Linked DNA regions of Homo sapiens: region 2 is linked to region 1. Evidence: fine-mapped expression QTL. A gene starts in region 1. The other region holds a variant in brackets. All regions are shown on one strand. Distances are between the middles of the regions.

What was found. PIP is the estimated chance that this variant, and not a neighbour inherited with it, causes the effect.
Region 2: its variant is the best candidate, but not a certain one, in a credible set for the expression of PDZD4 in testis (GTEx, PIP 0.71).

Annotation. Positions count from the first base shown.
Region 1 is chrX:153,828,062-153,832,434 of GRCh38, reverse strand. It overlaps PDZD4 (PDZ domain containing 4), which reads left to right and starts at 1,891. Exons shown (of 8, transcript NM_001303512.2): 1 at 1,891-2,196. The coding sequence starts at 2,137.
Region 2 is chrX:153,804,848-153,809,220 of GRCh38, reverse strand. PDZD4 (PDZ domain containing 4) reads left to right here. Exons shown (of 8, transcript NM_001303512.2): 2 at 626-879; 3 at 1,852-1,942; 4 at 2,381-2,479; 5 at 3,088-3,150; 6 at 3,615-3,716; 7 at 4,014-4,124; 8 at 4,321-4,373. Among named protein-coding and RNA genes, the nearest start is that of SSR4, 12 kb to the right of the region's middle. The variant A/G (reference allele first, on the strand shown) is at 2,569.

The sequences.
Region 1 (4,373 bases):
AGGGGACATCCTCTAGGGGAGCAAGACACTAGGTTGTCTACTTTGTAGAGGGAGAAATGGCCTGAGATGAAGGTGTCCATGACCCCCGGGCAGTGGAAAATGGCTGGGCTGACTGGTCAGGGACCCGGGTGGAGGAAGATTGGAAGAAGAGACAGGTTTGGCGAAGAGGTACCTACGGGAGTGCTCAGGGAGAGTGTGGGGCCCCGTGCTCGTCTTCGCGCCCATGCCGCTGGGGAGCATGCAGTGTGGAGGGGGCGCGCCAGAAGCTAGCGAACAGAGGGGACCATCTGGTGGAGGTCAGCCAGCTTCTCCCCAGGATGCGATGGACCCACGATGCCAGTGGCCATGGTGGGAGGGCTGGAGGCTCTGTATAAGCCCAACGGCAAGGGCTTCCTCTTACCACGGCTCATCTAGACACTGCCGCTAGTGAATGTTCTTCCATCCACCAGCTGCAGAGACCGATGCTGAGCCCTCAATATGACGCCATTCCTCAAGACTAGCCAGCCATTGGGTGGCAGGTTGCAACCTGCACACCAGCCCTTGTCTCAAGTTCTGCTTTCTGGGAGAAGCCCTGGATAAGAAACTCGCCTCTCTTCTCCACATTCTGGGCAGGCCCGCCATTCTTGATTTCTCTTCTAACGAGGAGCCAGGGAGGAAAGGAAGGGCTCCGATTCAACAGCCCCGTGTGGCTGGGGGTTCCCTCACTTGCCCAAACCTGGAAATGAAGCATGTAGCAATTTCTCCAAGTGATCTCCTGCAGCCGGGGCAGCCTCTGGGAACGCAGACTTCCACCCGCTGCTGCTTTCCAGGCAAAGGCCTTCTCCCTCCAGGCTTGTCCAAGAAGACGGGGAGGTGGTGGGAGAGAAGAGGAAGAGATGGAAGGGCTGTGAAAGCGGGGACCGGGTGAGGGCTGGGGCTGAGGAACAGGTAGGCGGCGGGCCCAGGCTGGCCAGTGCTGTGTGCAGGCCCGGGTCCCAAGGCCTCCGAGGCCACTCTCCCCACGACCCACCCCCTCCCCACGCTTCGCTCATCCTTTTTTCTTTCTCTCTTTCTTTTCTTTCCTCCCTTTCTCTCTTTCTTTCTTGTTTTAAACAAAGGTGTCCGTTTCAAAGACAGCAGGGAATGGCTGAGTTGAAGGAGGGATGCAGTCATTTAAGGCGAAGCCCGAGGAAGGAGCAGAGGCGTGAGGGCTGCTGCGTCCAAGACCGGGGAGAGGGGCTGAAATCGCGGACTCTCTCTGGGGGACCCAGGAGACTGCTCCTCCTGGCAGGACCCCTCTCTCCCAGAGCGGCATCGCGCAGACAACGCGCCTGGTGCCCGCCCCTCAGGACCGGACGCCGGGTGTCGTGGGGTGCCTAGGACCCCCGCCCGCTTCCGTCGAGCGCCCGCCCCCGGCTTCCCGCGCCGGCTCCAGCGCCCCCGCCGCTCCCTCCCGCAGCCGGCCCCGCTCCCCTCCCCGCCCCTCCCGGCGCGCGTGCGCCCCGTGCCCGCGCCCCTCCCCCGCCGCCGTGGGCGCGCTCGCGTGCCCGTCGTCCCGGGCGGGAGCTGGAGACGGCCAGCGGCTGCTGGACGAAGAGCGGGCGCCGGGAGCTCCGAGAGCGCGGCCGGGCGAGGCGGGAGCGCGGGCGCTGGCCTGGCCGCGGGCGGGGGCCGCCGCCGCGCCGCTGCCCCCCTGTCGCGGGCCGGGCCGCGGCGCCGAGCGCGAGGGCCGGGCTCCCGGGGCTGGCGGCCATGGGCAGGAGCCGGAGGCGGCAGCGGCAGCGGCGGGCCCCGCGGGCGGGGAGGCGCGCGGCCCACGGCCCCTGACGGCCCCTGGCGGCCCGGCGCGCCCCCGCGCTCCCTGGGGGGCCGTAGCCTGGCAACGCCCGGCGCGCCCGCCCATCCCCCGCTGCCCTTTTTCTCCTGGCCGGGTGCGAGGGAGCATGCCCGCGCCTGGCCTCGGCCAGCGAAGAGTTAACCTGAGGGGCGAGCCGCTGCCCCCACCTCGGGGGCGTGCCCCCCTCCCCCGCTAGGCGGCCCGCCCCCCGCGCCAGGGTATGGCCCCTGGCCCCGGCCCGGGACCCGAGGTCCCGCGCCCGGGTCAGTGAAAGGCGTCTTCCCGTTCCCGCCCTCCGCCTCCTCTCGCCGGCCAGCAACATGGGATGTAATATGTGCGTGGTCCAGAAACCGGAGGAGCAGTACAAAGTGATGCTGCAGGTAGGGCCGCCGGCGCTGCGGCGGGGGCGCGGCCCTCCGCGGGGAGGAGCGGGCCAGTGGGGAGGCCCGGAGCGGCGGGCGTGGGAGAGCGGGAGGGCTCGAGGAGGACAAGGTAGGGAGCCGTCCGCACCCTCCCATCCTGGGGCTGTTGGGTGTTGGCGCTCCGTGGGAACCAGCCACGGGTGGGGTGGGAAGTTGGGGTTGGCCCGGGTGGGGCGCGCTTCCGTCCCGGGAGGCGCGGTGCGGCGGGCGCGGGATGGAGGTTGCATAGCAACGAGCGCAGTTCCCCGCACACGCTCTCCCCGCAGGACCCAGGGCGGGGGAGGGAGCCAGGCTCCCGCCGTGCGGGGGGCGCCGAATCTAGATCCCGGCGGGCCTGGAGCGTGGGAGTGCGTGGGCGTCCCCGGGCGCGGTCCAAGTCCGTCCGGGGGCTGGGTGCCCACCCCGACACCCACTCCCGCCTGGCCCTGCCCGAACGATGGGCTCCCGGGCCTTAGGCGTCTCGGGTGAGTGGGCGCCGCCGGGATCAGCGGGTTGGGCTCTCTGCGGGTGGCAGTGCCTGGCCGGGCTTTGCGGGGCGTGGACCAGCAGGGCCCCGCGGGGAGGGAAGGAGACGCGGGGCCCGGAGCTCGGACCTGGAGCCCAGCCCCGCGGCCCGGAACGGGGCTTCTTGCCTGTGCGTGGCGTGACTACGTGAGTGCGTTCCTGTGCCCCGTCTCTGTGTGCGCGGAGGCTCCCCCGGCCCCGCATTTGTGTACTTTCTGTGTGCACCCTGCAGACTGTCTAGAGAAATGTCCCGGATGCTGTGGGCTGAGACCTCCTAGGGCTAAGTGGAGGGAGGTCAAGGTCAAGGCACCCAGGAGCAGACAGGGCTCAGACAGGTATGCGTTTAGTGGCCTGGATTCAACTCCCGGGTTTATTGGTCTGGACTGGGAAGGAATCAAGTGCTTTGCAGGAGGGGTGTTGGCTTGGGAGAACGTGGGGGAACCCGTGCAGGGATCGGCGAGAACTCCGGGGCGGGGGCGGGGGCGGGGGAAGGAGGGGCTGGGCACGGGGGAGAATTCCCAGGAATCCGGGGACTGACTTCACGCTGTGAGCCGAGCTCCTCTGGCCACCTGGTGCGGGAGCCGAGGGGCAGGGCGGGGACGCAAATCTTGCCCCACCCTGGCGGAGCTCCTGGTCCTCTCTCCCCGGCCCTTCTCCGGGGGTGCGCGGGGCCCTCGGCTTCTCCCGTTCGCTGTCCTCCGCCTTCTTCCCTCTCAGTTCCCGGCTGCCACTCCTCGTCTCTTGTTCCCGCTGTTTGGAAACCTTGTGTGGCCATTGCCAGCCCCCTAGCGGGATAGGAATGCGACCGAGAGGGCGTCCTGTGGAATCCGTGTTGGATTCCAGGGCTGGGATGGTTGGTTGACGGGGACTCTGGATCCCATCCTCCTGCTTCCTTTTCGGGAGTCATTCCATCAAACGGCAAGCGATTTCTCCAAGCGATTCCTCCGGGGCCGTTTTGACTTTCCTGGAGAAGGATTGGTGTCGCACTTCATTTAAGGCCAACCTCGTGGGGACGTGTGGATAGGGGAGAGCGACCCGAGCTGCACCCCAGGCCTGAAATGAGCCATGGGACGACACCGGTAGCCCTTGGGGCTCCCCACAGCCCTCCGGGAAGGCCTCGGCAGGTCGGGCTGGGCCTGCCTTCAGGGAGGTGAACTTGGGTGGGCCCTCCCTGCTCTGCGCCCTAAGCTCTCCTTCATGGAAGGGACTTGCCCACCCCAAGGAGACCCGCCAGGAGGAGGGCCACTGCCGCATGCGCCCTCTGTGCGCTTTCCTGCTGGGCTCCCTTTGAAACCGTGGGAGTTTGGCTGCAAACTTTCACTTTCTACATTCCTCCTTGGCCCAATCAAAGCCGGGATTTTACGAGGAGAACCATCCTTCACAACTAAGGGAAAACAAGAGGACTGAAAAAAGTAGATACGGAAAGCAGTGCAAGCCATGAGCTGTCCCAGGGGACTGCGCTTCTGGGGGTGGACGCATCACCAGGTCCCAGCCTCTTCAGAGGAGAAGGAGCTTTTGTTCCAAAAGACAGGTCAGCTTCTGGGACCCCGTGCCTGCCTCCCGGCCTCCTTAAACACGGGTGCTCCCCCATCTTTAGGGGGCACTTCTCCCTGTCCCCCCTGAGTAACCTC
Region 2 (4,373 bases), 23 kb after region 1:
CTTTTCTCTTGGGCAAGTCAGTTGTCACTGTGAGGACACAACACTGTATCTTTAGGCATCTTCCTACTTGTCCCCCAACCTGACCCTGGCCCTCCCTAGTGAGTAGACATTTGTTGAGAGACTCGGCTCATCTGAAGAGTCAAGGTCATCCTCTTGCTTGATGCTGAATGAGCACAACACAGATGCTCACTGAGTGTTGGCTGTTATGGTCCAGTCATTGCCAAGGAACTCAATGGGATCTTCATGCTAGCTCTGGCCTCAGTGCCGCCCTAGAAAGAAGTGGGTCCGGATGGGGAGAGGCCAGGAGAGCTCAAGCAGTGTCTGGAGGACGTTGTAGGGCGGTATCACAGCCTCCAGACCCAGTGCACAGAGGCTGGGTCCCCCAGTCCTTGGTGTGACTTGGTGATCCCCAGCTGGCCTTCAGTGGGATGAAGGCTGAGCAGTGGGGCTTGCCTGGGAACAGGGGCACCAAAGGTAGCCAGGGCTGCAGACAGCAGATTCCTTGCTTGAGTGGCTTGGGGTGCTGGTTGTCAGCCCAGGTCCTGCCAGCTAGGGCCTCTGCCTTGACCTCAGAGGGGAGGAGCAAGCCTTTGAGGGTTCTTACGGAGGCGTGTCTCTGCCGCAGGTGAACGGGAAGGAGCTCTCCAAGCTGTCTCAGGAGCAAACTCTGCAGGCCCTGCGCTCCTCCAAGGAGCCCCTGGTGATCCAGGTGCTGAGACGCAGCCCCCGCCTCCGGGGGGACAGCTCCTGTCACGACCTGCAGCTGGTGGACAGTGGCACTCAGACCGACATCACCTTCGAGCATATCATGGCGCTGGGCAAGCTGCGTCCGCCCACCCCGCCCATGGTCATCCTGGAGCCGTACGTCCTCTCTGAGCTGTGAGTCGCCCTCAGGAGGGCCCCGGGCCCTGCCTCCAGAGAGGACAGGCCACCTGGAGCGGCCATCCGCACGCCACCCTCTCGGGCAGGAAGCAGGCCCCTCGGCCTCCAGAACTGACCGTGGTACCCAAGGGCTCCAAAACCTCCAGGCCTCTAGCCTTGGGCCGGGCTCCAGCAGGCGCCCCGTTGTATCTACCCCCAGGGCCGAGGGAGGACCCTCCTGTCCGGGACGTCGCTGCCGGAAGTGCCAGGGTTGAGGGCCTCAGCTCCTCCTCCTCCATCCTCTCTCCTCTGCCGCCTCACAAGCATCACTCCTTGAATCTTCTTGCATCCCTTGTCTGTCTCATTCCTCTACCTGCTCTGAATTTCCTCCATCTCTTCAGCTTCTTTCTTTGGCCCGACCGGAAGAAGGGCCTTTCATCCAGGCCTGGTGGCTCATGACCGCGTGAGCGCTGCCTCATTCTGCTAATCTTAGCCCGGGCTGCGGGGAGGTAGGCCACAGGGCCATGAGCAGCCAACCTTAGTTTTGGGGCCAGGAGGGCAGCCCCTGGAGGTAGGGTGGGCCCCCCTCTGCTCTGCAGAAGTCCTCCAGGGCCTGGATAACTCCTGGGGGCGTTGCATGAGTGGGGCCAGTGCTGGGCGGGCGGGTGGGCACCCGGAGATTGGAGAAGTTGGTCCCTGCCAGCTGGCGTGGTTGGAGGAGTTCTGGTCTGGGGGACGGGAACGCTAGAGGCATGCGCAGGTCCTCTGCGTGGACGCTGCACACTCAGGTGCGAGAAGTGCCCCCGGTCTTTGCATGGCTGCATGTTGCCCAGGAAGGGGCTCTGCAGGAGGCAACTGGGCCACCCACCCTTGAGAGCACAAGCAGAGCAGGCCTCCGTGCCAGGCACGCTGGGATCGGCCTGCCTGGGAGCTGGGGCTGAGGTGTGAGAGGATGGCCAGCTGGTCTGACCCCCACCTTCTCCTGGGCAGCCCCCCAATCAGCCATGAGTATTATGACCCGGCGGAGTTTATGGAGGGCGGCCCGCAGGAGGCAGACCGCTTGGATGAGCTGGAGTATGAGGTGAGCCGGGTGGCCAGGCCAGGGCCCGCAGCCAGCTGCGGGAGCCGCCCCGACGCCTGTGTGCCTTCCTGCCCAGGCCCAACCCCGTGGCCCTCCTGGCACGCATCTGGCTGAGTCAGGGAGGGTGCGGGTGAGGTTACGTGTTCCGTCCATGTCGGTGAGTCCACGTCCCATGCACGTCTGTCTTCTGTGTCCTGTGCCTGTGTGTGCCTCGTGCATTTCCTGGGAGGGAGACCACTGAGTACGTGCGCCACGTGGGATGGTAAGAGAGACCCTCAAAGCGGGGCCTGGAAACTGAGCTCAGGGGGCTCCAGAGGAAGCTGAGGGGCTGCGGGCTGAGGGGTTGCGGGCTGAGGGGCTGGGCTGTGCTGCCTGCTCCCTCACTCACGCATTTCTGGGGCTTTCTACCTCTGCTTCCTCCCGGACCCCTCGTGGCAGGAGGTGGAGCTGTATAAAAGCAGCCACCGGGACAAGCTGGGCCTGATGGTTTGCTACCGCACGGACGACGAGGAGGACCTGGGCATTTATGTCGGAGAGGTATGCAGACGGGTATGCCCCAGCCCCGAGGCCCATCCACATGGCCTGCCTGTGGCTCAGAGGCTGCCCTTAAGGTCCCAGCTACCAGA[A/G]ACAGGGCATCACAGCTAGGGTGCTGCGTGGTGAGGCGATGATGGTCGACGGCTTCAGCCACTGTCCAGTGAGGTAGTCATCTGCAGAAAGAGGCCTGTGCCTGGGTGGGACAGCAGATGGGCCTGAGAACTAGCAACAGGGTTGCTGTCTAGCCTTCTCCCGAACCCATCTTGGGCAGATGTCTTGTGTATCCCCAGGAGGGGGATGGCCCCTCGCTCCCCTCCCTACTAGTAGCATCCCACTAAAGCCACCCTTCCAGATGGACAATGTCCTACTTCCCACCAATGCCCGGGGCTGACCAAAAGCACAGGCTTCCGTGCAGAAGAGCCTAGGAGTGCAGGGCAGGGGCGGGGAGAGGTGACTACTCCACAGCCTCTGCCTCTGCTTCCTGGGGCTCAGAGCTGGAAGGGGAGCCAGAGAGCCTTCAGCTTGCTTTGGGGGCCCCTGAGGTGAGCCTGCCCCCTTCTACCGAAAGGGCATGTTAGGCACCAAGTCCCCAAGATGCGTGTGTCCTGCAGGTAAATCCCAACAGCATTGCAGCCAAAGACGGCCGGATCCGTGAGGGAGACCGCATCATCCAGGTGAGCACTTGCAGGCTGCAGGCCTGGCCCAAGGCCCCGCTGTGCCCGTCGGCCCAGCCACCTCTCTTTAGCCAGTCCCTAGCTCTCTCCCACTAAGAGCTAACCCTGAGGCCCAGCAGCCTGCCGTGTCCTAAACCCGGGCTGAGTCTCATCTCTCTCCTGCCCACTCACCCCAGTGGCTCCCGTGTGCCTATGGGATCTGCTGGCATCCAGGGCCCCTGCTGCTCTGAAACCTCCTGGCCCCTCTCCCTCTGCCCCACTCCATGCTCTCCTGAGCACACATTTGCTCTTGCAAGAGTCAGGCCGCCCTCTCCCTGGTACCTTCCACTTAGTTACATCCTCCCAGAGCTCAAGCCCCAGCCTAGCCCAGCCGAGCCCAGAGTGCTTGGGCTCCCTGCACCCGCCCAGGGTCCGCCCCAGGGCCAGCCCTAGCATGCTTGTTGATTGTATCCTGCCTGCCTCAGATTAACGGTGTAGACGTCCAGAACCGGGAAGAGGCGGTGGCCATCCTGAGCCAGGAAGAGAACACCAACATCTCCCTGCTGGTGGCCCGACCTGAGAGTCAGGTGTGTATGCCTGGCAGGGCGACCCGGGGCCACGACATCAGGCTTTCTGTCTTGGAAGCTGCTGGCCGTGACTAGGGCACAGATGTGCCAACGACCTGGAGTTGATGGAGGGCGGGTGGGCAGGGGTCTCTCAGGGCCCGTTTCCCCTCCTGGCCTCTGAAGGCTGAGGGGGCTGGGACGCTGCCCCCAGGTTGCTGAGCTTCACCGAAACAAGCCAAGTGCGGGGTCCAGAGCAGACAAGAAGGGTATATGGGGAGGTCCTTGAAGCTGTGGGGACACCAGGGCCTGTCTCCACAGCTGGCGAAAAGGTGGAAGGACAGCGACCGGGATGACTTCCTGGATGACTTTGGCTCTGAGAATGAGGGGGAGCTGCGTGCTCGTAAACTGAAATCACCCCCTGCCCAGCAGGTGAGGAAGGAAAAGGGCGCTGGTGGGGAGGGCGAGGAGGAGAGAACTGGGTGGAAGGCGCTGAGGCTGTGCAGGGTCTCCCAATGCTTGGCAGGGAAATGAACCAGGCCTGAAGCCCCTTCCGATCCTCCTGTGACATCCCGTGACATCCCTGTCCGTGGGACCTAACTGAGCGGTACTTACCTTTCTGCTCTAGCCCGGAAACGAAGAGGAGAAGGGGGCTCCCGATGCCGGCCCAGGCCTGAGCAA